Linked DNA regions of Homo sapiens. The protein of the gene in region 1 interacts with the protein of each later gene in a pairwise test. Each region holds a gene or a part of one and is shown on either strand. Other genes may lie near its edges. The genes, in order: WDFY3, RABGAP1L, TRIM39, CEP76 and BTG3.

What was found.
Region 2: the proteins of WDFY3 (region 1) and RABGAP1L interact in a two-hybrid assay, tested with the Homo sapiens proteins (one large-scale study listed by BioGRID and IntAct).
Region 3: the proteins of WDFY3 (region 1) and TRIM39 interact in binary tests that used the Homo sapiens proteins (3 or more experiments, as listed by UniProt).
Region 4: the proteins of WDFY3 (region 1) and CEP76 interact in binary tests that used the Homo sapiens proteins (3 or more experiments, as listed by UniProt).
Region 5: the proteins of WDFY3 (region 1) and BTG3 interact in a two-hybrid assay, tested with the Homo sapiens proteins (one large-scale study listed by BioGRID and IntAct).

The regions. Positions count from the first base shown.
Region 1 is NC_000004.12:84,734,862-84,741,162, forward strand, and holds part of WDFY3 (WD repeat and FYVE domain-containing protein 3), read right to left. Parts: intron 5,556-6,301; coding exon 5,326-5,555; intron 4,259-5,325; coding exon 4,149-4,258; intron 2,506-4,148; coding exon 2,323-2,505; intron 1,467-2,322; coding exon 1,309-1,466; intron 260-1,308; coding exon 182-259; intron 1-181. UniProt on the Homo sapiens protein: Required for selective macroautophagy (aggrephagy). Acts as an adapter protein by linking specific proteins destined for degradation to the core autophagic machinery members, such as the ATG5-ATG12-ATG16L E3-like ligase, SQSTM1 and LC3.
Region 2 is NC_000001.11:174,164,172-174,170,472, reverse strand, and holds part of RABGAP1L (rab GTPase-activating protein 1-like), read right to left. Parts: intron 1-6,301. UniProt on the Homo sapiens protein: GTP-hydrolysis activating protein (GAP) for small GTPase RAB22A, converting active RAB22A-GTP to the inactive form RAB22A-GDP. Plays a role in endocytosis and intracellular protein transport.
Region 3 is NC_000006.12:30,338,894-30,345,194, reverse strand, and holds the end of TRIM39 (E3 ubiquitin-protein ligase TRIM39), read right to left. Parts: intron 5,288-6,301; coding exon 5,265-5,287; intron 4,924-5,264; coding exon of another isoform or gene 4,834-4,923; intron 4,691-4,833; coding exon 4,575-4,690; intron 3,484-4,574; coding exon 2,936-3,483; 3' UTR 1,466-2,935; downstream 1-1,465. Other genes in the region: RPP21 (ribonuclease P protein subunit p21), read right to left, coding at 1-23; TRIM39-RPP21 protein, read right to left, coding at 3,299-3,483, 4,575-4,690, 5,265-5,287.
Region 4 is NC_000018.10:12,688,236-12,694,536, forward strand, and holds part of CEP76 (centrosomal protein of 76 kDa), read right to left. Parts: intron 3,253-6,301; coding exon 3,124-3,252; intron 1-3,123. UniProt on the Homo sapiens protein: Centrosomal protein involved in regulation of centriole duplication. Required to limit centriole duplication to once per cell cycle by preventing centriole reduplication.
Region 5 is NC_000021.9:17,601,708-17,608,008, forward strand, and holds part of BTG3 (protein BTG3), read right to left. Parts: intron 3,291-6,301; coding exon 3,153-3,290; intron 2,570-3,152; coding exon of another isoform or gene 2,438-2,569; intron 1-2,437. UniProt on the Homo sapiens protein: Overexpression impairs serum-induced cell cycle progression from the G0/G1 to S phase.

The DNA.
Region 1 (6,301 bases):
ATTTTCCATCCTAAAATCAGTAGCCAAAGTAGCTGATGGCAGGAATAATTAAAACCATCATCTGATGACGAATGCAGTCCAGCAAGTACCTTAAAATGGGCAGAAAGATACCAGGACAAACAGAGACCTTTCACATACAAAAAATGTAAAACAAACCATTATGATGATTATAAGTCCTTACCTCCTGATATTCTTTATATTGTGTATCTACTAAGTCACGAACAACAGCAATGTGAGTAAACATCCACTGCGAAATCTCCTAACAATGGATGGAAAAAGAGTCTTAATATTTCATGGATTTCTGGAAAAAAATAGTTAATTACCCTTGAAATTAATGCTAAATAATTGGTTAAAATTCTGCCAAAAGCACCAAAACAGAAAACTAAAACAAAAAATTCAGAATGAATTATATGCTTGTGTGATGGACACAGATCTGCATGCTCTCCCACCCCCAAAGCCCCTTCAAGGAAGGGCTTGCTGCCCACGTGTCTGGGCTGCTCTCAACACCCTCAGGGATGGCCTTAGCTGCAGAGGGCCGACGGGGTGCCCCACATCCAACGATCTAGGGGTAAGAAGACTCACACATTTCAGCTTAATGGAGGTCAATTATAAGAGGGTATTCTGTCCTCAAAGCTCCACTTAGCTTGGCTGAGGCTGTCACTAGACCAGCACTGCAGCCTGACTTTTCCCTATGTCCAATCCTGCTTTCTTCTCCCTTCCACAGGTATTGATCCCAAGGGCACCCCCTAATATACATTATGCACACTAAACTCCATCTCAGAGTTTGCTTCCTAGAAAACCTAACCTGATGCATGAGATGGCTGACACATACTATTTCTCTCAGATCCTTTTCATAGCTGCCACTTAGATTCTGGGATGGTGAAGGAAGTAGGATGAGGAAGAAGTTAATGCTGGAGGCAGATGAGCTTTTAAAAAACCATAGGTATACACAACAAGATTGTAAAAATTAAAAAAGGCTTGTTTGGCTATTGCCTTAAAATTTATATAATTATTAGTAATAACATTATTGAAAGCTGGGAAAATTGAGAGAAAATTATCTATAGTCTGATCATACATTAATCTCTAAATCTCATCTTATATCCAGTTATAAAATGGGTATAAGTAAATAGCACTCATATATAGTTTTATCATAAGAAAATGAGAGAAATTCCCATAGTCTGGATTACTTCTATCTCTATTCTAAAGCAAAAATACAGAAAAGTTTCATTTCCAATCAATTGCTTGTACATGTTAAGTATATTATACAAAATACTACAACTAATATCAGCAATGAAACTAAAAAAGTACCTGGGTGGAAAGACTGTGTTTATTAAGACCACTTTCTTTTCGATTCCTTCTTGATCCTGTTAACTTGGAAAGACCAAAGCCACTGCTGACACGGGATAATTTGGACTGTGTGGTGGGCGCTAAAGCTTCTCCTCGACTTATGCATTTCTTTTCATGGGCTATTAAAAAATCAAATTAGATTATTTTATAATTTCTCCATGTATTTATGAGTCTTACTTTAAAAACTTATCTGGTTATAAACTACAACCCTGTAGTTAACAAAAGTAGCACATATTACAGATGCAGATATTACATTCAGATATCACAAATTTATTTATTGGTAATCTTAAGGATGACTGCTCGCAAATTGTATTAGCTGAACTGATAGTTGGTTGAAAGTTCACAGCTCTGTAATAACATGCAAATTTAACTATAACGAGTTTCTATATTAATAATTCATAATCACCTAATTAAAACCTTTGGTGTTGGGTATACTTCGCAACTTAGAAACTATTTGGATTTTTAAAAGGCTATACAGCTTATACACTAGATTATATAATGCCACCAGAGAATCTATGGTAATAAGCTATAATTTAATACGTCAATATTACTGCAACAAAATGTATGAATATTCCCATACCAAGTAGGACAAAGAAAGATAAATTAGGTTCTGTTATAAAGTCAGTTTTGGCACCAAATTAATGAAAAAACAGAGCTTTTTGAATTTCAAAATTATAGTTAAGGGATTGTGGACCTGTAGCCAAGACAGTGACAATACTAGAGCTGTTAGCAATGCATTACATTCTGAATGCATAAACGCCTGATGTATAACATACCTCAGATGCTAAAAAAAAAAAAAAAAAAATCAAAGAGAACTAAGATCTCAGTATAATCATTCTAGAATGGTTGTTATATTGATTTTAAGGATGACTTTATAGAATCCTTTTGTGAATGCTGTAGTCACATATTTAAAGTATACCCATATATGATAGCCACATGTAAATCTCCTGGTGGTATGATCTCTGTAGGCCTTACCCAAATGATTCTGCCAGCACTTCAGGGCAGCTTCTTCAATGAGTGGCCTTGCTGTAGCTATGTCCACGTGGCCCCTTTCATTCACAGGTAGAGTTACTTTGAAAAGTTCCTCTAAGACTTGTTTCTTACTATGTATCAGTTCAGTCCAAACTCTGTTGACAGCTTTTATGAGAAGCTGACGCCCTAGTAAACAAACAAACAAACAAACAAAAAAGTAAGCAAATGATCAAAACACAGTATAAAGTTAGTTTTTATTTTTCTTCATGTTTACATGTGGGAATTTCGACTACAGTATTTAATGTAAAAAAAACAAAGCTCATGTTGTATCTAGCCCAGTGAAAAGGTTATTTAGACAACTGAAACTGTGGTTGCCTATTTAGAAAACATTAAAAAAACTTTATATTCATACAAAAGAACATTTTTATTTATAAAATTGGAAATTATATATATGTAATTAACTAACTTTTTCTAGATTAAAAACTTATCCCCCATTTAAAAGTAATTTTTAAATCTGAATGTTTAAGGTGAGTTCAAAACTAAGTTAGTATTCTTGAATATTTTGCACAAGAAAAGAAATATTTTGAAAAGACTTTTACTATGAAATTCATTCTTGCTTTGGATTCCTTGTTTGTATGCCTGACTCCTCCTCCAGACCAGTCGGCCCTCAGCAATCACCTGAGGGCCTGTGATAACAAGCTGCTAGTCCCTCACCTCAGGGTTTCTGATTCAGTAGGTCAGAGTAGGGCAACAGAATCTGCTTTTCTACCAAGTTCCCAAATGATATTGATGTTGCTATTCTGAGGACCTTGCTATGAGAACCAACGCCACTTCCTCAGGGGGTGAAAATAATAACCGCATCTTTGGTGTTTAGGGTTCAAAACATTTTGGTGAAAGAACAGAGAATAAATTCATGTTTAAATGAAGGAATGAAATTAAAATGAGTGCTGGGCTTCTCAACAATGAAACCATATGTAAAACTATCGCACAGTATTTCTGGGGAGACAAACACCACCAGAGTGATTTCTCTTTATCACTAAACATGTGGAAATAAGAAATCAATCCATACAAAGACTTCAATATGCAATCCTTACAGGATTAGTGGGAAAACCAGATTGAAAAAAAAAAGAGAGGGGCTGGGCATGGTAGCTCACAGCTGTAATCCCAGCACTTTGGGAGGCCAAGGCCGGTGGATCACTTCAGGTCAGGAGGTTGAGACCAGTCTGGCCAACACGGTGAAATCCTGTCTCTACTAAAAATACAAAAAAAAATTAAGCCAGGCGTGGTGATGTGCACCTGTAGTCCCAGCTATTTAGGAGGCTGAGACATGAGAATCACTTGAACCCGAAAGGTAAAGGTTGTAGTGAGCTGAAATAGTGCCACTGCACTCCACTGTGGGCAACTGAGCAAGATTTTGTTTAAAAAAAAAAAAAAAAAGAGAGAGAGTATAAAGAAGAATAAAAAATAGCACTATTGATAACCTGTCTCAAGCAATATTAGCCTACTCTAATGTGATATGCCTGGCATTATCATTGGGCAGTTCTCTTTATAGTTAATTCCAAGGTAGTATTTGTACTTCTACTTAAGCAAATGTAAATATTAATACCACCACCAAATCTCACAGTGTTACTAAGAAATGATGAGCTTAGCAATATTACTGGTTAGTGCTTTACTGTTATTGGCATGAGGAGACTCTTTATGTATAGGTTGCCCTACTGGGAGAGTTGCTATCAATGCTGGCAGTTTCTGAAGCCAATTTGTTGGTTATGTCTTAAAAACTGGAGATAAAACAACCACAATTTAAAAACATCCCAAGTCAAGGCAATTACCTTCACTAATATCTTGGCTGTAACTACCATCTGGTTCAATGTCCGAGGGGATCATAATGTGCCATGTGGTCATGCGGGCTTCTGCTTCCAGTCCAAATCCATCCACGTTGCTGAAAAATTCCAGTCAGTTTAAACTTTATGAAGGAAATGATTAGCTGAAGACTACAGTAACTAAGAATTACTCTATTTCCATTACCAGCAGACACTGAATGTCTACTCAGCAGATGCACAGAACAGAATTCTAGTTTGCCAGGAAGATGCCATTTTTAAGAGGTGATCAAATAAATCCACCTGACTAAATGTAATTAGACTGATCTATAGCATCAAGATTATTACCTTAATATTTAACATGCCTTTTGATTATTGTGAACATTTTTACCTAATAATTACAAAATGTTCATTCAACTAAGAACATTTTTCTAATATGCCTGTGTCCTCTCTCCAGTCTTATATCTCACTACTCTGCTCCTGTAGTGAAGTAGTTGCAGTTCCCCTGAGGTGCCACACTCCTTCTTCCCTCTGGGCATTCATACAGACTGTTCTTTCCTCCAGTAGCAGTTGTCTCCATTCTCTTGTCCTCCCCAACCAGGTCTCAAGCTGCAGCTCAGCAGGTATTTCTTTCAGGTTAGGGGCCCCTCTTATGTGCCTCCAAAGCACTGGGTTGTTCCTAGCAGATCACTCAATACAGCTGACTGGTCTTGCTTAGCTGTTTCCCCTCAAGAAGGCTGCCACAGGGTCTATCATACTCACATTTTGTCCCAGCCCCTAATTCAATGCTTGGCCCCGGCAGACTCTAATGAAATATCTGTCAAAGCAATCAACTGAAAAATACTAATTTTACTCATTTAACATATAACACTGCATTGAGCTTCACTTTTTACTTCTCTTAGATTTCAATGGTATATATTTTATTTGCTTTAAAAGCAAACTTCCTTATATAAGTGACATATGGTGATAATGGAAAATTTTAAAGGTGTAGAAAACTAAGTTAAAGGAAAAAAAAATACCCATTATTTCACTGCAAAAATTCAACACTTGCCCTTTACCTTTTTACATAAAGGTTTAAATAAAACAGAGTAAGGGTAAAAGAAATGTTACTATCAAAAAAAATAAAGAATTTTGTTGGAATAACATCAAAGCCAAATTTAACATGGCAAACTGAACCTAAAGGATTTACCTTCCAACATGTAGATTTATCAAGCAGTGGGCCAGACAGCTAATGAATTCTTGGTCATGGTTCCCAGGTCCCAGGATCAAGTTTCTGTTTACAGTGAGGACCCTGAGTGAATCAAGCAGAGCTACTTGCTGAGGAACGGTTTTGTGTGCCCGTGAGAACTGGTACAAGATGGTCCTATTGAGGCAATGATACACTGCATCCAGTGACAATCCCTGTGATCTTCTCTTTGACTAAAGACATGAAAGGTATGTTTTTAGTATAATAGACAAAAGTAAAACACCTGTTAATCATTCATACATGAACTTTTATTAGGTCTATTATATACCAGATGCCATGCTAAGTATGCAGGTGCTAAGTTAAAAGATACAAAGCTCTTACTATTATGGATTTCAGAACCCATGAGACACATCAATATCATCTAATGAATGATATGAGGGCTACATAAAAAAAAAGAGCTCCCAGGGAGGAGAGCCACTAACGATGCTGTGGGGCAGAGCAGTCTCCCTGAGAACACGAGGATGTGACAGCTAGGGGAGTCTCCTCACAAATATATTTTGTTAGGATAAATGATCTATATTCAAAAGTACTGAAAAAAATTAAGATGTTACTAAAATCATTTTTTTTTGACATTCTAATTTCATCCCCTCATTTGAGAATTTTTCTCTTTGGCTTAAATACAAATATATCCCTTTGAAAAGTCTTAGGTGACATGACAGAGCCTATGTATCTGTGTAGCATATGCTAACAAAACATGTAACAATTATTTCTTACTTTCTACATTAAGTATTAAATAAGATTAATCAATTGTGCCAAACCAGGCCAAACCCTTAATTAAAAGTACTGTGAACATGCACAAAAAATAACAACTTCAAGAGAATATAAACTACAAGGAACTTTGTAAAGATTCAACTGATAAGAGAATATTCTTTTAATATCAACTCTTCATGCTGTGTAAGCCTTTACACATGGATGTAGT
Region 2 (6,301 bases), on another chromosome or scaffold:
ATCTCCTGACCTCGTGATCTGCCCGCCTCGGACTTCCAAAGTGCTGGGATTACAGGCATGAGCCACGGCGCCTGGCTATGTGATCTTAGGTAAGTTACTGAAGTTCTCTAATCCTGCTTCCTCACCTGCAAACTGGAGATGATATTATAATCGTTCCTACCTCATATGGTTACTGTGAAGATTAGCGAGATAATGTACATTTTCTTATGTAATAACTACCCCATGTAAACACTCAATATTAGCTCATGGTTAATGTGCAAAGAGGAGAAAGAAGTTGTGTCTAAATTACTTATTCTCTCTGAATTTCACAGCAGCACTAGATCAAGAATTAAGGTTCTATGTTCTATCTACACTGTCTCCCACAAAACCAAAAATGTTTGTAGTTACTTGCATTTTAAGTATTTTTTTCCACCCTTGGATAACTGATAAAAATGTCTAAAAGCTACTATTATCCTCCTCTAAGTGAAATTCCCAAAAGTTGAAAAATTGTGCAGGGTTTAGTGGCTCACATCTGTAATTCCAATGCTTGGAAGGGCTGAGGCAGGAGGATTGCTTAAACCCAGGAGTCTGAGACCTGCCTGGGCAACATAGGGAGACTCCCATTTAAAAAATTAGCAGAGTGTGGTGGGTACAGTCCTATAGTCCCACCAGCTACTCCTGAGACGAAGGTTGGAGAATCGCTTTGAGACCAGAAGTTTGAGGCTGCAATGAGCTATGACCGTGCCACTGCACTCCAGCCTGGGCAACAGAGAGATACCCTGTCTCCAAAACATGAAAAAAAGGAAAAATTGTTAAAGGTCTGTCTTTAGAAAAGTAAATACTCAGTGGAACATAATGAAGTTACCATGCAACACAATGAAATTTATATTCAAAATAGGAAGTATTAGATTAACTGATAAACTGGTTTCTCTTTCCTACTATTACTAGATTATCTTTTAAAAAAACTTTATCTGGGCCAGGCACAGTCACTCACGCCTGTAATCCCAGCACTTTGGGAGGCCAAGGCTGGCAGATCACGAGTTCAGGAGTTTGAGACCAGCCTGGCCAACATAGTGAAAATACTACTAAAAATACAACAATTAACCAGACATGATGGCACGTGCCTGTGGTCCCAGCTACTCAGGAGGCTGAGGCAGGAGAATTGCTTGAACCTGGGAGGCAGAGGTCAGAGGCTGCAGTGAGCCAAGATCATGCCACTGCACTCCAGCCTGGGCGACAGAGCAAGACTCCGTGTCAAAAAAAAAAAACACCTTTATATTTTCAAATGGTAGGGATGGCTAATTTATTGTGTGTGATACCAACTGCAACAGGAGAAACCTGTTTCATCTATCAAAGCTATTGATAATGTTGACAAGAACTATAAAATGCATGTCAGAATGTTTTTTAACTTAAGAGGCCTACATTATCATATGTAAAATAACTCAGAAACAGAAAGTCAAATGCCGCATGTTCTCACTTATATGTGACAGCTAAACAATGGGTACACATGGACATACAGAATGGTGGATATTCAGGTGATGGGTATACTAAAAGCCCAGACTTCACCACATCTATACATGTAAGAATCTATACATGTAAGAAATCTGCACTTGTACCCCATAAATATTTTTTTAACTTTTAATTTTTTAAACTTAAGAGGCCTAGCCTCAGTGAAAATTTAAGCTGCATAATTCATGCTGAAAAATTTTCTATGTTCATTAGTGTTGGCAAAAAGGTCACCCTAGGATTTGAATAACAGTAATATTTAATTTCATTTCCCCATTAACTTTGCCAGGAATCTCACACTAGTGTTAAGGTAACTTCTAGAATACAGAAGGAAAAAAGGAATGGAGAGAAGAAGACATTAACTGAATTACCATTCAATACCAACTTGATCATGCAACTTGGTAATAGATCTTTGCGCAGACAACAGCAAATCAAAACATTAGTCCAAATATGACCACTGACTTCAGGGCAAATATGAGAGATTTAAAATGAAAGAATACAGTTCATGAGATTTAAAAAAAAATGGAAAAAAGCAATAATAAATGAATGAGGTCTGGTGATAAAACAGCTGCTCAATAACAAAATTATTCTAAAACAACTTCAGAAACCCTACTGTCTGCCAATATATATATAACCTCCCTTCAATGGTTGATTTTTCAATGGTCAATTTTTCACTAAAGTAGTATACTCTATTCAATTTTTTTTTTTTTTTTTTTTTTTTTTGAGACCGAGTCTCACTCTGTAGCTCAGGCTGGAGTGCAGTGGCACGATCTTGGCTCACTGCAACCTCCATCTCCCAGGTTCAAGGGATTCTTGTGCCTCAGCCTCCCAAGTAGCTGGGACTACAGGCACACACCACCACATTCGGCTAATTTTTGTATTTTTAGCAGAGGTGGGGTTTCACCATCTTGGCCAGGCTAGGCTCAAACTCCTAGCCTCAAGTGATCTGCCTGCCTTGGCCTCCTAAAGTGCTGGGATTACAGGTGTGGGCCACCACCCCCGGCCATCAATGTATGCAAGATAAATTGACTACAGAAAAATAAACTATTCAAAGAAACACCTAATAACCATTCTAACAACTATTCCTTTATACAATGCTCTCAGCAAAAGGCCTCACAATGACAATTACGACATCTTGAAGCACAGAAAACACTCCATGTAGTTTATAAAAAAAACTAGTGATATGTGTCTCTTAAACCTTCATAACTCAAAACCACAGGTTTGTATTTTTTCTAAAAATAATATTTATTTGCATCACTTGTAGTAGAAGTCTGATTCTTAAAGTCTTCTAATTTTGCTTACTGCTAATAATGAGAATGGTAAACGGGTGTATGTGTGGGGTAAAGGAGAAGTTGAGAAATTCCTCACTGGTATATGAATGAATTCCATACTTGCCTTTTAAAATGTGCTCCTTTCTTGAAATTGGGCATACAAAAACTCCCTTTGGGTTTGCATTACTTTCATATTTGTGAATACTCACATGGTAGTCTTCAAAGAGCTAGAACACTTGTTTTCAACCATTTGCCAGGTGGGTGTATTTTCACCACAAATTCCAAGAACTAATGATATGTAAATATATATGTATGTATGTCTACACATACATATATGCACACTATGTGTATGCGTGTATATCTTTACAAATGTTTACATAATTTAATTAAGGGCACCATCATTATACTTTTTACCACACACACAAAAAAAATGGTGGCAGAAAATCTGGAAAGATTCTAATAACCTCAATTCGTGAAAACTAACATGCCTCAAAAAAGAGGGGGAAAAAACTTTAACAGAAACACTGTGCTGACATGATTAGCTTTATCATTTAACTGGTGTGAGGCATCTGGGCCATGCCATATTTGAACTCTTATCGTGGTGTTTGGGGTGTGCTATATTGTGGAACAGGTCACATGAAACTGCTGACACCTTCTAAAATGGTAGGACAACATTTACATATTAGGAGCTTACATAACTGAAGAAAATCGTGTGGCAATGACACAATTCATATTTATTTTAGAACCACGGCTCATCTCAAAAACTCTTTATCAACTATCCAGAAGTAGCCCAGCTTTTTACCAACCAAGTAGTTATTTACTATAGCAACTTCTTTACCAACATTTCCAAAATTTTCCACACACTTCCATGATGAGCTATTAAGCAGTCTCTGTATGTGTTGTTACCTGGGCAACACTCTAAGAAGGCTTTTACCTTTACAGAACTGGTGGGTCAAAGAGAAGCAAGGCTTCTTCAAATCGACTACACACTATTTAATTAGAAGCAGTAAGTGTGAAATCATCAGCAGACAGAAAAGCTTGAGAACTGCCACCAGTACTTCAACTTGATTAACAGACACAACTTACTGGCATTTATACCTTCATTTCTAGCTACCCAATTCCCCTGTGAAACAAGGCAAGTTCCATCCAAGACTTCAAAACATCTTCAGTCATACAGGCTGTCAAAGACATAAATGCTGAAATCTAAGAAAATTCTTGGAATAAAGAAGCCATCAATTCCTTACAAGTGGATTTTGTATAAAATACCCTGCTTTGCTGCCCTAAATTCTAAAAGCTACTCAGCTTAGCTGCAGATCTGTATAAACTACCCTTCTGCCTGAACTAAACCTGCCTCCAAAAATTAAGATCCAGTCATTTAGAAATCACATTTTAGAAGGCCCTTGTAAAGACTTTCAAAACTGCTTCCTGTTCTACTACAGCCAATTTGACGCTAATGAAGAAAAACAAAAAACAAACAAAAAAAAAACACTGTCTCTCCTTACAAATAAAATATTTTTCACTTTCCAACACTTTTAGGATTGGTAAACTCAAGGTTGCTTCTCTAACACTAATAATTTTTCCCTTCAGCTTCTACTCTAAGGATACTTATGTGCTCTCTGGATCATATTTTAATCATAACATATAAATCCTGTTCAATGTTAAGAAGTACTAGATTACTCCAGAGTCAAAAATGAAAGATAAACTGAAAAGCAGAAAGGAAAACTGGCATTCTAGGCTCTTAACCATCTGGTGCTAACGGACTCTTTCTTGCCTAGCTCTTTCACTACTCATTTTTCCCTGTCTATGCTTGTATGCCTTTGATCACCCTGGCCCCTGGCCCAGAAAGGCCTTTCTCTCATACTAGTTGTCCTATTTCCACATGTCCAAATCCTACCCATTCTTCAAAGCATAGTTCAGGGGCCGGGCGTGGTGGCTCACAACTGTAATCCCAGCACTTTGGGAGGCCGAGGCAGGAGGACAGTTTCAGTCCAGAAGTTCAAGAACAGCCTGGGCAACATAATGAGACCCCGTCTCTACAAGTAATGAAAAATTAGCCAAGCATGTTGGTGTGTGCCTATATAGTCCCAGCCACTTGGGGGCTGAGGCAGAAGAACTGTTAGAGGCCAGGAAATCAAGGATGCAGTGAGCTGTGATGGCACCACAGCACTCAGTTTGAGTAACGGGAGTGAGATGCTGTCTCCAAATTAAAAAAAAAAAAAAAAGTAGTTCAAATGTCACCTCTTCTTTTATCCTTAAAACTAAAAGTAGACCGGGCACGGTGGCTCACGCCTGTAATCCCAGCACTTTGGGAGGCTGAGGCGGATGGATCACCTGAGGTCAGAAGTTCAAAACCAGCCGGGCCAACATGGCGAAACCCCGTCTGTACTAAAAATACAAAAATTAGCCTGGTGTGGCAGTTGGCGCCTGTAATCCCAGCTACTCAGGGAGGCTGACGCAGGAGAATCACTTGAACCTGGGAGGCAGAGGTTGCAGTGAGCCGAGATTGTACCACTGTACTCCAGCCTGGGTCAAAAACGAAAAACAAACAAACAAACAAAAATAAAAGTAATCTCTCCCTCCTCTCTAAACTCTTATAGTTCCTTATCTTTATCTTTTTACCACCCATTACTTTCTGCCTTTCATTATCACTGTTGTTTCCATATTTAATCCCCCACCTAAGCATAAAGTCCTCAGGGTCAAGGTCCATCTTTATTCAAACTGATTAACACAATCCCTTATACACACTAAGTGAGGTTAGGAAAGAAGCCCACCAGAAACAACTCCAGATTGAGTCCAGAGCCCTGGCTTTGCTAATAACTCACTATCTGACCTTGGCCTTGAGGCTCTTAGTATGTTCCTTCACTTACAAAGTTAAGAGGGTAGGCTAAACTAGTTGTATTTGTTGTTAAATGTAGGCTATAATCCATTAGCTGGGTGTAAAATTAATTTGGAAGTCAAAACCCAGCATTTTTAAAATGAAATGAAATAACAGAATATATCAATGTGTGTTATAAGCAGTGGGGTGCTATAAATGTTTAACAACTACCTATGAGGAGGGAAGCCCTAAGAATACCATTTGCTGAATTTCCTGGTGTAAATATTCCCACCATGACCAATTTTGAGCTACCAACATGATGTCACTGGACAAAGAGCTAGATAGGAAGAAATATGCACAACTGGTCTTGCAAGCCATTATAGCTAACTCAGTAGGGCCCTGAAAAGATAAATATTATTTCACCAAACTTTCAACTTTGTGTGTGTGTGCGCTTGCGGAATCAAGTAGTAAAATGTATTTTTTATTGTGGGTCACAGTCAAATGAGTTTAATAAATGTTCAGGTAAACAATCTCCTGGTGTCCTTCATGTATACTACATAATTTGATAAATCTTACTCTTGGTTACAGATGTCTCTTCACCACAATTCATATTTTTCTTCAAAAATGGGAGTAACAAACTGATATCACCAGAAGGCAAATTACACAGAGCAGGAATTTGGTTTATGGAATATCAGCCAAGTGCCAAGGTTTTTAGCATTTGTTCAGCCCT
Region 3 (6,301 bases), on another chromosome or scaffold:
CGGTCCTTCACCGGCCCCGCCATCACCGCCGCGCTCCAGGGCCTCCCGCAGCCCCACCCCTCGCACAGCCCCGCCCGGGCGTCCGCGCGAGGCCTCCTGGGAAACGTAGTCCCCGCGCCCTCGGGAGCCTCCCGGAGGCCTCACAAACTCATCGGTTTCTAAACACAACCCCAGCAATCCATGCCCAGGGTCCCTTTATGAATTTTCAGTGCTTTTGTCTTCCTCAAGCTCATGACCAATTATATCACCTAGAGACCTAGTGGAGCAGGTGAGGATCTTAAATCGGCCATTTTCAGGACAGAAGGCTGGTCTCTTTATGTAGCTACGTTGGGGAGATGGTTATGTGCAATTTATACCCAGCTAGAGCTTCTGCCCTACTCTCCTGAGGTCCGAGGCAGATGCCTGTAAGATCTACAGACGGAAGGCACAGAGGTAATACATTAAAAAAAAGCACTGGTGCCAGTGGGGGTGAAAGTGGGAAGGATCATGAGGGTGCTGGAGGGAGGGAAAAGGACTCCCGGTCCTCAGAAAGCACAGTTTACTCCTACTATTCCACCTACCAAAGAAACACACTTCCTGTTATGCAGTGCTGGACACACAGTAGGTGATCCTCACTTTCTGAGTGAATGGTTTCTAACTCCTAGGCTTAGGTACAGCACAGAAATCTGTCAACAGCATCCCCTGCCCCTGAAACTTCACCCCACTCCCCACACTGACATTCACCTCACACCCCTCCCTCTGACCTCTTCTATCTTCCAGTTCTTCTGTCTGGTGTCCTGTGACTCATAGTGACTATCAGTTACTGAAGTCAGAAGCAGAGGGACATGAATTGGAGGGGTAGAAGATCAATGAACCCTGAGATGGGGAGGGCAGCATAAGTCAGGAGAGGATGACTTCTCTCCAATTTCAGACCCAGTGCCAGGCGGGGACAGACAAGCAGGGCTCCAGCTGGGAGGAAGGACATGGCTGAAACCTCCTCTGGAACTAGTTTCACAAGGGTTTTCGGACTCAAATGAGAGTGGTGTGTTTAAAATGTAGATGTAGGCTGGGCACGGTGGCTCACACCTGTAATCCTAGCACTTTGAGTGGCTGAGGCAGGTAGATTACTTGAGTTCAGGAGTTCGAGACCAGCCTGTCCAACATGGCAAAACCCTGTCTCCACTAAAATTAGCCGGGTGTGGTGGTGCATGGCTATAGTCCATAGTAATCCCAGCTACTCTGGAGGCTGAGGCAGGAGAATTGCTTGAACCTGGGAGGCGGAGGTTGCAGTGAGCTGAGATCACCACTGTACTCCAGCCTGGGCGACAGAACGAGACTCTGTCTCATAAATAAAATGTAGATGTCCGGCCCACCCCAGACCTTGACTAACCACTAAGGGTGAGACCCAGGAACATGCATGTCTAACACCCAGTGATTCTTACACATCAGTACAAGGCTGTCACCAAATTACCACACAACACAGAGATCACTTCAGTGGATCCTTTGTTCCATATTATTTTAACCAACCAAAGTATCTTGCCACAAAGAACCACAGTCAAGGCACAAAGGTAAGAGGAGGAGAGTCTGGACAAAGTCCTGTTGAGGTGGTAGGAGGAACTGAAATGCCCTCAGTAAACTGCAGATTCTTCTCTCAGTCATTTCTGTGAAGATTACCCGAATAGCAGATAATCCAAATTGGTTTAGTTTGGTTTGGCATGCATCACTTTTACCTTTTATGACAACATATGTACCCTATAAGTTGTTTATTTTGGCCTAACATGAAAATCATTTACATTCTCTGAAAAGGGAAATGGCAAAGGGTGAGGGATGGCAACAAACAAGCAAAAGCCTGGCTTAACACCAGTTCCAGGCCAGATGCACACAAGCCAAATGAAGTTGCCTATCTGGCCCTTCCCTATATACCACCCTCTTCCACCCTGTCCTTAGGGTGAGAAAGACTCCATAACCTTTTTTCCTTTCTGGCTTGGACACCTTGGCCAGGTAAGAAGGCTGACAATTTGGGAGTAGCTACTAAGTAACATTCTTTAAGGCCAGGGCTTTGTATACAAATACCCTTCTCTTTCCTCTAATACCTGACTCTCCTTTCCAAGTTCCCTTGGGAACACTGTGAAAGGATAGATGTGTCTTGCAGGATCTCTTCCACTTTGCCTCTGGAGAGGAGCAAGGTGACTGACTTATTGGTATAGAGGCAGGCAATAAGCCAACTCTGCTGAAGGCTGAGGCAGGGACCTGGGTTCTCCTCTGCTTTCTTTTCAGCCTCTCCTTCTCCCCACATTCCTACCTCTGGCCAATCTTACCCATAATCGCAACCTTACCCTTGGAATAGAAGACCAAAGAAACCTCCCTCCTCTTCATTAATCTCTAGGAATCTGTTCCTTTAGCCCACTTCCCTGACCCTTCTAGCCTTGTTGATGTCCAATCTCTGCCCTCAGAAAAACTCCTCAATATCTAGACCCATGAGAGCATCTGTCATTCATCTCTCATGAATTCAGAGGTACACAGACCCCTGTGATCTACCTCAAGAAGCAAGACTATCCTGGGTCAAAGAACCCCCTAAAAAGATGTGCAGGGGTTTCTGTTTCCTCCTCTGGTTTGAGCAAGTCAGACCCTCACAGATTTTTTGTTTCTGGAAAAGCCTCTCCTTCCTTCCTGACCCGTCCTTGTGCAACAGAAAACCTGATGGACTTCAGGGTAGACAATCCTCTGGGAACCAGCTCCCCACCCTGACAGTTAGGAGGAAGTCACAGCTGTGCTCTCTCATCCAGCCCAGTCCTACCTCCCCCTCCACACAAAACCATCCTAGAAACCAAGGTGTTTCTCCAAGATGATTCAGGACTGGACCCAGGTGGACACGAAGACGTTCCAGCAGGACACGGGAAGGAGGCCCGTAGCACTTGACCCTGCCTCACCCCAGTCATTCCCACATCCCAACCTGTCACTCCCAATCTGTTGGGGGCCTGATGGTAAGTGGTGCAGCATTCTTCCGTCCAGCCCGGATGCCTGGGTAGAAGAGGGGCCAAAGTTTCTCAGTAAAAGTATCAGTGAAGGTGTAGATATGAGAGCGGTCTGTGACATTGTAGAAAGACAGTGTGCCGGCCTCATAGTCTAGGAATATGCCTACCCGCTTGGGTTTCACCTTGATGTGCAAAGGGGTAAAAGGTGTGGTGGTGGCTGCATATTTGTCCCCATTCCATAGCCGCACCCGCCAGTAGCCAGTCTCAGGGAGTGGAGTCAACTCGCCCTTTCGGCTCACGGAGTCCCGGCATACACCCACTGCCCAGTGGGTCTTGTCGCCCACCTCCACCTCCCAGTAGTGTCGACCTGAGGTGAAACCCTCAGTAGCCAGGACGCAAGGGTAGAAGGTGAAACGCCTTGGTGTGTCAGGGAGATCCCGGAGTCTTGTCTCCACGAACTTGACGCTCTTACGATCCTCTGACAGGACTAGGTTAGGATGAGCTGTCTCAGGGTCCAGGGTCACATCCGCTGGCGGGAGAAGCCAGAGTGGGGAGCTAGATGAGGATGGGAATAGCTAAATGCCCCTGCCTCACTCTTCCAGCCTGCCTTTACAGAGCCTGGTCCCTTAAAGGTCCCCAGAACAACCTGGTTTGGTTAACTTTCTCAATCCATGGTGTCACCTAAGGAAGGGGAGAAAGCAATGGCTCACTTCTCACCCTGACCCTAAAGTAAACAGATAATAATCTCTTGAGTCTGCAGTGGCTGGTAATCTAGGTTCCCGCCTGGTCCTCTCTTCATCTCCCTCTGACATTATCATTTATCTCACTATGTAGAGAAGTACAAGGTGTAGTCTGAGGGGCAGAAAAAAACGGAAAGTGTTAAGAAGGATGCCGAGCAAGACAGCATATGGTCTAGGGATAGGGTGACCATGTGTGTTTTCCAGGAACTGGCCTGGTTTATGACTATTTTCCCTGCATATTCACATTAATATAATGACACTCCCTTTCAGTTTCTTTCTTTTTTTTTTTTTTTGAGATGGAATCTCACTCTGTCCCTCAGGCTGGAGTGCAGTGGTGTGATCTCAGCTCACTGCAACCTCCGCTTCCCAGGTTCAAGCAGTTCTCCTGCCTCAGCCTCCAGAGGAGCTGGGATTACAGGCGCCCAACACCACATCTGGCTAATTTTTATATTTTTAGTAGAGATGGGGTTTCACCGTGTTGGCCAGGCTGATGTCGAACTCCTGACCTCAAGTGATCCACCAGCCTTGGCCTCCCAAAGTGCTAGGATTACAGATGTGAGCCACCGCACCCGGCCTTTGAAGGTTATGCAAGTTTACATGGTAAATTATATAACCACTCTACCCGATGACTTTGGCAAATTATTTAACCTTTCTGGGTCTCTATTTAGAAAAGAATGGACCTAAGAGTAGATAACGCTTAAGGCTTCCTCTCACTCCAAGTTCTGTGACTCAGGGTGAGACTAAAAGCCAGATAAAGGGGTAGGTGTGTGTGGGAGTAAGAAAAGTGAGACATAGGATAACTGAAACCCATATAAGGTAGGACCTAAAAACTTTCTTCTCTCTAGTGGTTTCTTCTAGTTTCCTTTTGGGAACAACTCACCAATTAGCTGTTTAAGGATTTTCCTTAGGGCAAAGTACTGTCGGGGAAAATTGCTGAAGTTCTTTTCCAGCTCTATGGATACTGAAGTCACCTCCATGGTCTTCACCTTTTCACATCTAGGAGGGATAGGGAGATAGGGGAAGAAAGGGCAGGGTTAGGGAGAAGCTCCAGCCAAGTGACTATTCAGATGTTAACATTTTTAGGGAGAAATTAAAATTCTCCATCTTCCCACTTTCTTCCTCCTCCCTGAAAAGCTCACCTGTTGATTTCTTTTACTAATCCAAGGAGAGCCTTATGATCCCGTGGACAGATCGTTGAGAGTGAGCCTCCGAACTTTCTAGGAATATTCCTGTATTTCATGCAAATGGATGATTGCCCTCCCTGCTCTCCCAACCCCTTCCTCCTGCCATCTTGTTTGGACACAATTCCACCCACTGGCACAAGTAGAATCTGATTCTACCTTATCATTCTCCTTCTCAAGAAGTCCTGATGTTCAAAGGGGAAAAGGGATTATTATTCCCAATAATTTGTTCTCTAACTGGCTTCATGGGCACAATGAACATTCTCCCATACCCTGCCCAGACACACTACATGACTTTCCCAACCTCACCCCCAACCCAAACTCCTGACTGTACCCCTCCTCTCTAAGCCAAGACCTAACTCACTCAGAGAGATACAACAATCACTTACTTTTCCAGGGTACTTTTGACATCCTAGAAGGAAGGAGAAAAGAAAGCAATATTGGTCCTGGTATTCAGTGGTCCTGAAGGCAAAAGGTTCCCCCTCCTCCCCAAAGTTCCACAGCTATAAAATAGGGATAGGATAAACTGAGGGTCACACAGTGCAAGAAGAGCTCCAGCGGGACCTGAATGCACTTCTCCCAACCTAATCCCTACTTTCAACTTCTGGTCATCATGAAGCTTGGTCATTTATATCACTTCCCAATGATTTCTTTTATGCTTGTCTTTGCTCCTCAAGGATGCTGGGAGCTCCCTATAAGGGACAGGGATTGTATCAATTCTTTACTCTGTCCCCCAAGTACCAACCACATATCTCACTCTCCTTGAGGATAAGTACAGAGAGTTCCAGACTGGTGGCATAGGAACAAATCACACATTCCTGTTACGGTTTGGTATCCCCTGTCTTGCATTAGTTAATAAACATCAATAACTGGCTGGGCACAGTAGCTCACGCCTGTAATCTGAGCGCTTTGGGAGGCCAAGACGGGTGGATCACTTGAGGTCAGGAGTTCAAGACCAGCCTAGCCAACATGGTGAAACCCTGTCTTTACTAAAAATACAAAAATTAGCCAGGTGTGGTGGTGTGCGCCTGTAACCCCAGCTACTCAGGAGGCTGAGGCAGGAGAATCGCTTGAACACAGGAGGCAAAGGTTGCAGTGAGCCGAGATCATGCACTGCACTCCAGCCTGGGCGACAGAGCAAGACTCTCTCAGAAAAAAAAAAAAGGAAGAATAAACACATTAATAACTGTGTGCTAATACTGATTTGTGAATACTTGGGGTCCAGAAGACAAAGAAGACAAATCTCTGTCCCACAAGGATTTCCCAGTTTAATATGGAAGGCAGAACACACATACATGAAAGGCCATAGGAACAAATACCAAGCAATACGTAACATAAAAATAAATGTACAATGAAGCCTCACTGCTTCAAATGCTGGTAATCTAATCTCTAAGATAAAAAATATGTTCCCTAGTTTTGCTAACAC
Region 4 (6,301 bases), on another chromosome or scaffold:
AAAAAAAAAAAACAAAACCTAGTGGCCTTAAAGTTCAATTTCTGTAACTTATTTTAAAGTTTCTTGCACTAAAAAGTTCAAAAAGCATCATTCAATGAATTACTACTATACTATAGCAAAACCAGCTAACAAAGGGTAAAAAGAATAATGAATTTTTAAGTATAATGGCCACGGCAAATCTACAGATCTTTGGTTAGTATTGAGGTGCAGGACTGTTACTCCTATTCTTACAAATCCACTAACAGGCAAGAAAAGATGAGCACATAAGAAGTGGAAGCATTTGCCTAAGTCAATCATCAATAGTAGCATCTTAGAATGTAAGATATATCATTTTATTACAGCAATATTCTAATATTATCTAAATATATCCCCACAAGCTACTTAACTGTTTTGAAAAGTTAATATTTCAACCTCTGAATGGGCACTGTCCAGTGAGAAAATCACTAACCATTATGAGCTATTTAAATTTTAATTAAAATTTAAAATTCAATTATTTTTAGTCATAATAGCCACATTTTGAATGCTCAGTACATGGCTGGTGGCTACCATACTGGTTAGCACAGATACAGAACATTTCCATCATTGCAAAAAGTTCTTGGCCAGGTGTGGTGGCTCACGCCTATGATCCCAGCACTTTGGGAGGCCGAGGCGGGCGGGTCATGAGGTCAGGAGATCGAGACCATCCTGGCTAACACAGTGAAACCCCATCTCTACTAAAAACACAAAAAATTAGCCAGGCATGGTGGCACGTGCCTGTAGTCCCAGCTACTTGGGAGGCTGAGGCAGGAGAATCACTTGAATCTGGGAGGTGGAGGTTGCAGTGAGCCAAGATCGCACCACTGCACTCAACCCTGGGTGACTGAGACTCTGTCTCACAACAACAACAAAAAAAAGTTCTTTACTTTACTTTCAGTGCTGGATACATTAGAAATTTTTTTGGCCTGGATATGTATATTAACGTTTTGATTTATAACTATTGTTTTTATAATTAGATTGACTGTTTTACACTGTTGTTGTTTAATTTCAGAACTAGTCAAATACAGGAAGCAGCAAGAAACAGTTCTGAGGAATCTAAATTAAATCAGCATTTTATTTACTCTATGTATATGGAAAGAGGTGGCATAAACCAAAAAGGCACCAGTTGAAACTCCAATTTGACACAGACTTTGCCATGACTGAGTTGCTGTTTGGCCTTGAAAAGACTGTTCACTTCTCTAACCTTCATACTGTTTACAAAAAGAGCCAATGCCTGGCCACTTGACAATCTTATATGGTTACTATGAGACTAAATTACGTTCTATGGTTCAAATCTTAAAATGAATTCTGAGAGAGGAAGTCGTTTAAGTAATATTTCCTAAAAGAAAATCCCACTTCCTTGACTTCCTTAGTGCATTTCAACTTCTTCCTCCTCTTTGATCCTGCCATTTCTCTGATTCACTGCCTCACTCCATCCTGAGTCCTCTCTAGTTCCTAATTCCACGTGGCAATGAATAAATGCCTCAGACTATATAGACAGCAGGGAGCCAGTTTATATATATATATATGTATATTTTTTGTCGTTGTTATTGTTTTGAGACAGAGTCTCACTCTGTTGCCCAGGCTGGAGTGCAATGGCGTGATCTTCGCTCACTGCAACCTCCGCCTCCCGGGTTAAGCAATTCTCCTGCCTCAGCCTCCTGACTAACTGGGATTATAGGTGCCTGCCACCAAGCCTGGCTAATTTTTGTATTTTTAGTAGAGACAAGGTTTCGCCATGTTGGCCAGGCTGGTCTCAAACCCCTGACCTCAGAGGATCCACCTGCCTCGGCCTCCCCAAGTGCTGGGATTACAGGCGTGAGCCACCGCGCCCGGCCAGGAAGCCAGTTACATTTTGATTGGTTTCTCCTTGCCTTTGTCCTGATAATGTTGTTACCTTGCCAACCAGTCATTCAATATATAAACAACGCTATCAGAAAGTCAGAAGCCATTTCCCTTATTCCCACCTCTAGTCAACCTCTCATTCCCAAGCTCCCCATCTGGACACTAAACCACTTTTAGCCTGTTCCAAAATCTAGGGAAAGTAGGGTAAAGCTGGATGAATGTACAGGATTTGAGAAACTTAACTTAAAATAATATACTACACTATACTTATATGAAAGCATCTGTATGAGGCTGAATATATACAAAATATTTGAACTGTTCCTTAGGAGTTACAAAAAATACGTGAACCTGACCACATTTTTTGTTGTTTTTTTTTTTGAGACGGAGTCTTGCTGTGTTGCCCAGGCCGGACTGCAGTGGTGCGATCTCGGCTCACTGCAAGCTCCGCCTCCCGGGTTCACGCCATTCTCCTGCCTCAGCCTCCCGAGTAGCTGCGACTATAGGAGCCCGCCATCACGCCCGGCTAATTTTTTGTGTTTTTAGTAGAAACGGGGTTTCACCGTGTTAGCCAGGATGGTCTCGATCTCCTGACCTCTTGATCCACCCACCTCGGCCTCCCCAAGTGCTGGGATTACAGGCGTGAGCCACCGCGCCTAGCTGACCTGACCATATATTTTATATTGGTCTGTTAAAGAGAGAAAATGGGTTTAGGACTCAGGAAAAATGGAGGCAGAGATATATAGTTGAAATGCTTCAGTTAAACATTACTGGTCACTGGCTTAGAAGTCGTGGTTATATACAATTTTTTTTAAAACCCTAACAAAAAATATATATATGCCCAGAGCCCCCCCCCGTTCTGCACACAAGAGCTGGATTTACATATAACCTGCAAAGTGTCCAAATGGTTAATTATTTAGCACTAAGTATCAAGCAAATACACATTCCAAGTTAAACAAAATGGATTTTCATCTACTTTAAATCAAATATATTCAGAAAGGGTTTAAAACACAATAATTGATTCAACCTGAGAAAGGTGATTTTTCAAAAACCCACAATAACTGAAATTGAAAGTAAAATAAGACATAGATTGATCTTGCCACTCACTATGCAGTGAAAGAGAATATTACAAAATCAGCATTTTATTTTACAAATACACTTTTATTTTTTGGAATACATTTTACAAATAAATATTAAATGAAATTTACACACATAACAGTAAATCTCAAATACAGGCATAAAATTATTCTAATATAATTTACAAACCTGTGCAAAAATCTTAACCAGTCGTGAGTTGTGTGAGGGTCGAATTTGCAAATATTCTCTCCACCACTGCTTAGCATATACAAGAAATAATCGCTCTTTCTCTGCAGTTTTCTGACGTTCCAAAGCAAGCTTGAAATTGAAAAAAATATTTTTCAATTTCTATTCATTATCTTTAATTACTACAAAATATGTAGCAAATTTATCTACTTCTCTACATCATTACCACCCTAATCTGAGTCATCATCATCTTCTATAAGAGCCTCCTGACTTCCCTATTTCTACACTTACCCCTAGTACAATCCCATCTCCATACAATAATCATAAGTCACCTTTTTTTCCTCAAAGACAGAATTTTTTTTTTTTTTTTGGTTGTGGAGGATGCAGTCTTGCTCTGTCGCCCAGGCTGGAGTGCAGTGGCAAGATCTCAGCTCACTGCAACCTCTGCCTCCCATGTTCAAGCAATTCTCCTGCCTCAGCCTCCTGAGTAGCTGGGACTACAGGCACGTGCCACCACACTCAGCTAAATTTTTTTTTGTATTTTTAGTAGAGACAGGGTTTCACCACATTGGTCAAGCTAGTCTTGAACTCCTGAGCTCATGATCCGCCCGCCTTGGCCTCCCAAAGTGCTGGGATTACCGCGCCTGGCCCAGAAATTTTTAAATAGTAAATCATACAAGCCGGGCATGGTGGCTCACGCCTGTAATCACAACATTTTGGGAGGCCAAGGCAGGTGGATCATTTGAGGTCAGGGGTTCGAGACCAGCCTGGCCAACATGGTGAAACCCCATCTCAACTAAAAATACAAAAACTAGCTGGGGATGGTGGTACATGCCTGTAATCCCAGCTACTCGGGAGGCTGAGGCAGGAGAATTGCTTGAACCCGGGAGGCAGAGGTTGCAGTGAGCCGAGTTCATGCCACCGTGCTCCACCCTGGGCGATAGAGTGAGACTCTATCTCAAAAAAAAAAAAAACATACTGTCATTCTCTTGTTAAAACACTTCATTCTCCATCACATTGCAAAATACCTGCCCTGGCCTATGAACTCTGGCCCGACTATCTCATTTTCTCCTCTCTCCCCAACCCACTACGCTCTAGCCACACAGGGCTTTCGGTCCTCCATAGGGGCTTTTGTTCTAGGCTGTTCCCAGTGCTGGAAGCTCAGCCCCAATCTTTGCATGGCTGGTTACTTCCTGTTGTTCAGACTCTTTCCCTACCTTAGTCACTCGACCTATAATTAGCCACCCAATAACCACTGTATCATATCACCTGTAATAATTCTCCATAAAACACCTTCTACTATCTGATTATTTTGTTTGCTGACTTATTGTTTCTCCTGCACTAGAATCTAAACTCCTTGAGAGCAAGCTGTCTAGCTGTCTGCTGCCCTATACACAGCTACATCTCCAGTGTCTAGAACAGTGTCTAGCACATTTTGACATCTATTTAGGATCCATACATATTTCTGACTTTAATTTCTTTTAAGAGACAGGGTCTTGCTCTGTCACCCAGTCTGGAGTGCTACTGCATGATCATGGCTCACTGTAGCCTCGAATTCCTGGGCTTAAGCGATCCTCCCACCTCAGCCTCCCCAGTAGCTGGGACTACAGGAATGCACCACCATGTGCAGTTAATTTTTAAAAATTTTTGTAGAGATGAAGTCTACCTATGTTGCCCAGGCTGGTCTTGAACTCCTGGCCTGAAGTGATCCTCTTACCTTGGCCTCCCAAAGTGCTGGGATTACAGATTAATTAGCCTGGCTAAAAGTTTTAATAGTGCAATTTTAAAGAGAAAATTAGAAGCAATTTATTTATCAGATAATAGAATAAACTTATGTTTTAGTCACTAGAAATTATAAATATGACAGTGGAAATATAAGAAAATACATATAAAATAATGTTAAGTTTAAAAAGGAGAACCTGGTGGGGCACAATGGTCCATGTCTGCAATCCCAATGTTTTGGGAGGCTGAGGCAGGTGGATTGCTTGAGGCTGGGAGTCTGAGGTTTCAGTGAGCTATAATCACACCACTGCACTCAAGCCTGAGAGAGTGAGATGCTGTCTCTAAAAAAATAAAATTTAATTAAAAAAAACAAGCTACTACCCCAAAAAAGTAGAGCCCAAACATTTACTTTATATGTCACATAAATATATGAATAACATGATTAAAACTCATGTATACCACTTTGGGAGGCCGAGGCAGGCAGATCACGAGGTCAAGAGATCGAGACCATCCTGGCCAACATGGTGAAACCCTGTCTCTATTAAAAATACAAAAATTAGCTGGGCGTGGTGGCACCCACCTGTAGTCCCAGCTACTCAGGAGACTGAGGCAGGAGAATTGCTTGAACTCGGCAGGCAGACGTTGCAGTGAGCCAAGATTGCGCCACTGCACTCCAACCTGGCGACAGAGCGAGACTCTGTCTGAAAAAAACAAACAAAAAAACCCCTCACGTATACACATAATGTATATGTGTGTATACACCATTTATTTAAGAGACAGGGTCTTAGTCTGTAACCCAGGCTAGTGTGCAGTGGTACAATCACAGCTCACTGTAACCTCAAATTCCTGGGTCAAGCAATCCTCCCATTTCAGCTTCCCAAGCAGCTGGGACTACAAGTATGTACCACCATGCTTGACTAATTTTTTAAAATTTTTGTAGAGACAGGGTCTCACTATGTTGCCCAAGCTGGTCCTAAACTGCTGGACTCAAAAGTGATCCACCCACCTTAGCCTCCCACAGGGCTGGGTATTTATTTGAGTAACATCAAAGTTGGTTCTCACTATGTGGTTTCAGGTATATATACCACCCATGACACATGTCAGAAGCTAGAGATTAGAGGGAGATGAGAGTTTACAAAAGGAAGGAAAAAAAGTTTAAAGAAAACAGGGCAGGACATTGTTTGCCTGAGGGAGAAGCACTAGCGTCTAACCACAGGTCTGTAAAAGGAACAATATGACAGGCAGGGTGGAGTAAAGGGTGGTGTATGTAATCAAGGAGAACCATTCCACAAGTGCCATCCCGGCAAGTCAGCAGATAATGAGAACCTCCAAACTAAAGACTGGCAAGAACTAAACATGGATGGCAAATCCAATGTGAAGGAATGAAAAAATCTGCCGATCTTTTAAGACCCAGGAAGAAAGTAATTCATCAGAGACCTGACAGTGGAATTAGGGAAAA
Region 5 (6,301 bases), on another chromosome or scaffold:
GTTAATGACACTAATATAACAATGACTTAGGCCTATCTTCAGTTTTGCCCATTAATGGAATCAAAATTCAAAAATGGAAAGGCAAGAAATTTGAGAAAAATTCCTGCCTTTGTAAACAGAAACCTCAACCAAGGGCAAATATCTAATGATTGAAGGATCAGCATTATTAACTCAGATTTCTTTGACACCTAGTTTGGTTCTGCATTTTTCCCTTTGTACTATTTTGGTATGAAGGCTCTCTCTTCATGGTAAGAGAAGCTGCTGACTATACTACTATAACATTACAATGTGCAGTCGATATCTTAGGAGAATTAGTAGACACCTGGACAACTTTTAAACTTTCCATTTTTCAATGATCACTGATAAAACATCAAGGCTAATTTAGTTATTTAGAAACAATCAATAGTATTTAACACTCTATTGGGGGAAAAAAAGGATGGCAGAAATCACCAAAAAAAAAAAAAGTTGTAAAATATGTTGAGTAGATAAGCTGGCATCTGTTCTCAGAACTTCTCATCATAGGCAAGATTTATTTTCTATTCTGTATCACGAAGTGATAACCTTTCTAACTATATGGCACTCTTTGTACTCTTGCAGCATTTTATTCTATCAGAGTAAGTGAAGACTATGAAGAATGTTCTCAGTGCATCTCAATTTTTTTTTACAATCTTAGTCTCTAGTATACCAATGAGTTATTATTTTTAAAGATTCTCAGATATTTGATCAATTGTATACTTGCTAGATCAGCTTTAATTTTCAAAATATCTATGTTTCCAGTTTTGGTGAAAAAATATTTCTCAATGTCTTTTTCTTCTGTTAACTTATATCAACCACCTCTACTAAACGATTAATACGTCTTTCTTTTTGGGGTTCTGTTATTGAATGAACACCTGACACTCGCAGGTGATTTCTATTAGCTGTGAAAAAAATCACATCAGAGCCAATTTTTGGCAAATTTACATATAAATTAGAAGCCTACTGAATGAAAAGGTTTTCTAAGATTAATAAGATGAAAGCAAAGTAGCAGTTTTTTCCTACCAGGCATCATCAAGTAATGAAATGTCTACTGAAGTAGAATGTCCGTATAACTAAAGTTTTTATGTTCAGGTACTGAGACTTATTTTAAGCATTTTAAATACATAGGTCCAAAATGTTTATATAATTATGTAACTTGTTAAACATCCTTGGACATAAAAACTTTCCCCTGATGGTTTAGGATCATTATATTGAACGTAAACTATTTGATTGTGTGATAACATAATCGTGCTGATTTTTTAGCTTTTTCATTTTTGCCTCTATGTCAGACCACATGACATTTTTTGGTAGCGTCTGACTCATCAACCCTCTTTAAAATGCTGCTTCTCACATTTCATGGGTTAAGAAACCACACAACTAACTTAACTGTGTGTTAAATAGGAGCCAACTAGGATCTAAGTGCAGGTCAAATTAAAAAGTAAACAATTCAATATAGTAGCTTTTTGACAGCTATTTCTTATAAATGGAGGTCTTCTGCACAGGTTCAGTGGCCAAAGTTTTCCAAGTCTGAAACTAGCCTAAAGCAGGTCCTTAATTAGTCCCAGAATCTAAAAATGTTTATTTTCTCAGACCTAAATTTGAGATAGCTTGCTCCTTTTCTACCCGAGAAAGAAGTATTGGAGAATGTTTATCACAAACCTCTACCACCTACATCTGGTTTCCAAAAGCAATAAACTTACACCAACCACTGGCAAATCAGGTAGTAACCTCAAGCGGTGGTCCTGACAAAATTTAATGGAAGAATAATCATGTAATTCATCTCTCCTGTCTTCACCTCCACCTTCATTGCTGGAATCAGGTCAGTCTGCGACCACCTTAGGAGTACATAGTTAGGGTTCCTTCAAAAAGCAACTTTACTACAATCAATAAAGAGGCCAGGTGGTCAGGTGAATTGTACCTCAAAACCAAATAGAAACATCCTAAAGGCAGAGCCACAGGAAAATTCTTGCAGGAATTCCATGCCTCTGTTCATCTTCTTCCTGCTAGTTAGAACATCCTTCCCACCTTGTCACCTGGTCAACCATGGCTCATCCTTCACCTCCCAGCTCAAGTATCACCTACTCAGTAGTCTCCTGACTCCTCACCAGATGCAGTAACTTTCTACTTTGTGCAACCTACCACTGCATTTTGTACACATTTCTAACATAAATCAGATAACAATGTAATTTGCTTACTTTTCTTCTCAATTTCAAACTGAATTACCTAAAAGCAGAATGTTGCTTTCGTTTTTGAAAACCCTACAACTGAGAGTGCCTGGTCCACAAATAATGGTTTTTGAGCAAGTGGAGTTCAAAAAGATTTCATACCTAGCACTGATCTTTCACAACTCTATTCATTAGGAGATGTGAAAAATAACTTCCATTATAAAAATAAAACCACGAAGTATCACTCAGTCACTTACATAATCAAAAAGGAGGAGGCCGGGCGCAGTGGCTCACGCCTGTAATCCAGCGCTTTGGGAGGCCAAGGCGGGCGGATCACGAGGTCAGGAGTTTGAGAGCAGTCTGGCCAACATGGTGAAACCCCATCTCTACTACAAATATAAAAAAAAATTAGCCGGGCACAGTGGTGGGCGCCTGTAATTCCAGCTACTCAGGAGGCTGAGGCAGGAGAATCACTTGAACCCGGCAGGCAGAGGTTGCAGACAGCCAAGAATGCACCATTGCGCTCCAGCCTGGGCAACAAGAGTGAAACTCCGTCCCAAAAAAAAAGAGGAGAGAGGGAGAATAAACAGAAACAGAAACAAACCAAAAGTGGTTATCCAGTATTATTTGGGATTAGCTTCTTAATTTGAAGACAGACAAGTGCACCACCAATTAAAGATAATAGACACCTAGCGGAATCTAGGTGTCTACTTCTTGGTCTACAATAAGCTTCTTGGCAAAGCACTACTAGAAAACCCCCGCCTAATCAGTTTCTTTTTTCGGCTATAAAGCAGAAATCTAACTAGTCCTTCAACATCACCTCCAGAAAAGTATTTCATAAAATTTACATCTGAGAGAGTTAAACCACCAGCTCCTGGCCATAAAGATACACAGGCAGGCCGTACATGACAGAATGTCATAAAATTAGTTCCAGCATGGTCATCAGTTCAGCCTCTAAACTTGAGAACTCACCGACAGCACACCTCACATGGGTCCACCCAGAGAGTGAGCTCCTTTGGCAAGCCCAGGTCACTATACAAGATGCAGCTGTTTTCACAGGCTTTCAGGACATCAGGATCAACTCTCTGAAATTTATTGACACGAATACATCTACAACAAAGTGGAGTTACGTTAATGGATTTAAATGAATTTAATCATAAACGCCGTAATATCTATTCATACTTGCCAAGGTGAGTAATAAAATAGTAATAAAAAAATACCCTGGTAGAGAACCTAGGAGCATATCTATCCTAAACAGATAATAAATGTGAACTACAGGCACAGAGGCAGCCTGAAAAAAAGATGGCACCTATGTGAGCCCAAGGAAATCACTAGTACTGGGTCTACCTCAGTCTACCCAGAGACTTGACCACCCATGTACATTAAATGAGCACGGAGTATGAAAGTTGCACGAAATTTTAGAACTCTGAAGGTAAAAGTTTCTATAGGCCAAGTTCCTATACAAAAAAATCTCTAACAAAAGGCCTCATCTAATGTTTCAGATGGTATTTGGAAATGCTTACGACAAATTCTGATCTGTCATTAACTTGCTTTTATATCTCAGATAGTAAAGTGGTAAGAGGACACCCTTGCTTTACCTATAATTGTTCTATAAATACAGGATAAGTGAAGGACACAGATTCATTCATATCATATACTTATGATTAAAATACCTAACTAACATGTTATTGGCTTATTTCATTTAACTTCTATTTACCCAAGCACTTTTATTTAAATAGTTGTCAAAATTAAGTGAGGAAAATTTCTAAACCAATAAAGCCTCTGTCCCATCTTTTTTTAACCTATTATACGACATCTACCTAATGGAATGTTTAATAAATAAAAAATATGCATTCTGTTAAATGATAAGCATTCTGATTAAGTAGGGAAATAGGGCCTATGAAGGAAAAGTATTTACTGCCTACAATCAAGAATCAATCAAGAGAACTTGGATTTCAGCACTAATCCTAGTATTTATCAGGTAAGCCTAGTTAAGTCACTGTACCTCTTCCTCAGACCTGTAACTATAAAACATGGAAATACAAGTTAATTGATGAATAGTAATTACGCTGTAAAATACAATGATATAAAGACTAATGTGCTATTTAAAGTTTTTGTAAAAGTTAAATTATTAGTTGGTTTTAATTTCTATTTAAAAAATGAAAAAGTTCTCAACAGGTAATAGGAATAAGTGTTTCTACATAATAATATTAACAATAATAAGCATTTTAAAAAATTTATTATGCAATGGACAATTTCCTAAATGCTTTGCATGTATTAACTCTTAATTCTCATGATCATCCTGTGAGTTAGATACTTTTTTCCTCAGCATAAAGAAAAAAGGAGGCAGAGAGAGTTTGAGTAACTTCCCAACATTACACAGCTACTAAGTGATGGATCTAGGGTTCAAATCCAGGCCACTAGACTCCAAAGAGCAAGTTATTTCCTTAATACTCAACCCTGTATATACGTACCTATCTTAGCGTCACCATTAACAATATAACAAAGGCAAAGTGAGAAAAATTATTTTCTAGTATGTAAAATACTGCTTAGTCCTTTTAAAAACATGGTCTTATGCTATAGATTCTAATATTGTATAGGGTAATTTGAAAGATCCCATGTGCTCTGGGACCAAAAGCAGTTAAGGATAAAAAGATATATCTTAGATGTATGTGTTTTTCTTATCTACAATTAAGGTGATACAGGCTCTAAGCTTACAAATTATATATAAATATAGATGCTTAAACAGAGACTATGCTTCAACAAAATCTGCATACCTTACATGTTTTGTACTATTTTTTTTCACTCTACATACTACTTATCCATTAACTACTCTTCAAAAACAAAATTTTAAAAGTTGCATAAAAATATTCTATCATTTACTTAATGTTGACAGTTTAGTTCTTTCCATTTTTGCAATTACAAAGTGTAAGAGACATCCATATTCATACATGTTCGTCTGCATTTCTAATTATACTTCTAGAATAGATTCTTGGGAGACTTACTGTTCAAAAGGTATGAATATTTTTATAGATCTTGATAATATTGCCAAATTGCTCTCTACAAGTATCTTATTTATATTGCAGAAAAACAATTTCAACTTACAAACATTTTGTAAGAGAAAGAACACTCCACCTATTCTACAGACTGAAGTCTCTACTAACTTGGTTAATCTTATATTCTATTCATTTTTATAATAGTAACAACCCACTATTTTTTCTACTTCAAATACAGCTTTAAAATGACTCAGTAATGATACTTCTGATCACATGCCAATTTAATCGTTTCAGTTTTTTTCTCAAGTTTTTAGAATTAATGGAAATGAAATTGTACACTGTCTGACCTTTAAATATTTACTTGACAGTGCCTCCTTTTTCAGTAATAGTATGGTGGCTTGGCACTTCCAAAAAGCCTTCATCCAATGTCAGTTAAATCAGAGTAAAAAGCCTCAACAGTTCTAACTTAACGAAAGCTGTTCACTCTATTGGAAATGAAAATATGCAAAAAAAAAATTAAGATAATCAAGAGATAAGATAAAAAATGACTTGAGCCTGTGTTAGCGTGCACATTTCTATTTTAATTCATTTTCCAATTTACTGGAAACCTCTTTGGATTAAAAATGAAAAGGAAAATAAACTATTTTGATTCTCTTCTTGTCAATAGAACACAAGCTCACTTGACTTTCAGTACATGAGAAATTAGCAAATAATATGTTTACCTCCTTTTTAGACTCCTTGAATAGTGCTGTACTTGCAAGAGCCCAGTGGCAGAAAGGAAGTCCTTCTGACATCAAAGCACAAAGTGTTGATTTGTGTAGGAAACTTTGGGGACATCAATATACACAAATAAAAGAGTATTTCTGTAGTTATCACTATAGTCACTGTTCCACTTTTATTTCTCGTGGCCACATCCACAAAATGGGACAATGTTTGGCAGCTGAGTTTAGCAGAACATTCTCAACTGAGGTTCCTGAGCAGTCACATAAATACTACAGTGAGCATGCCAGGGCATGTTTTATAGGAGTCTGCTCTTCTTTACTTTAAGCTGTAAATGTACCTTATACAGCAGAGTACAAAAGACAGCTCCAAGTGAGAATTACCTTCGTTCTCAGTGCCAAAACA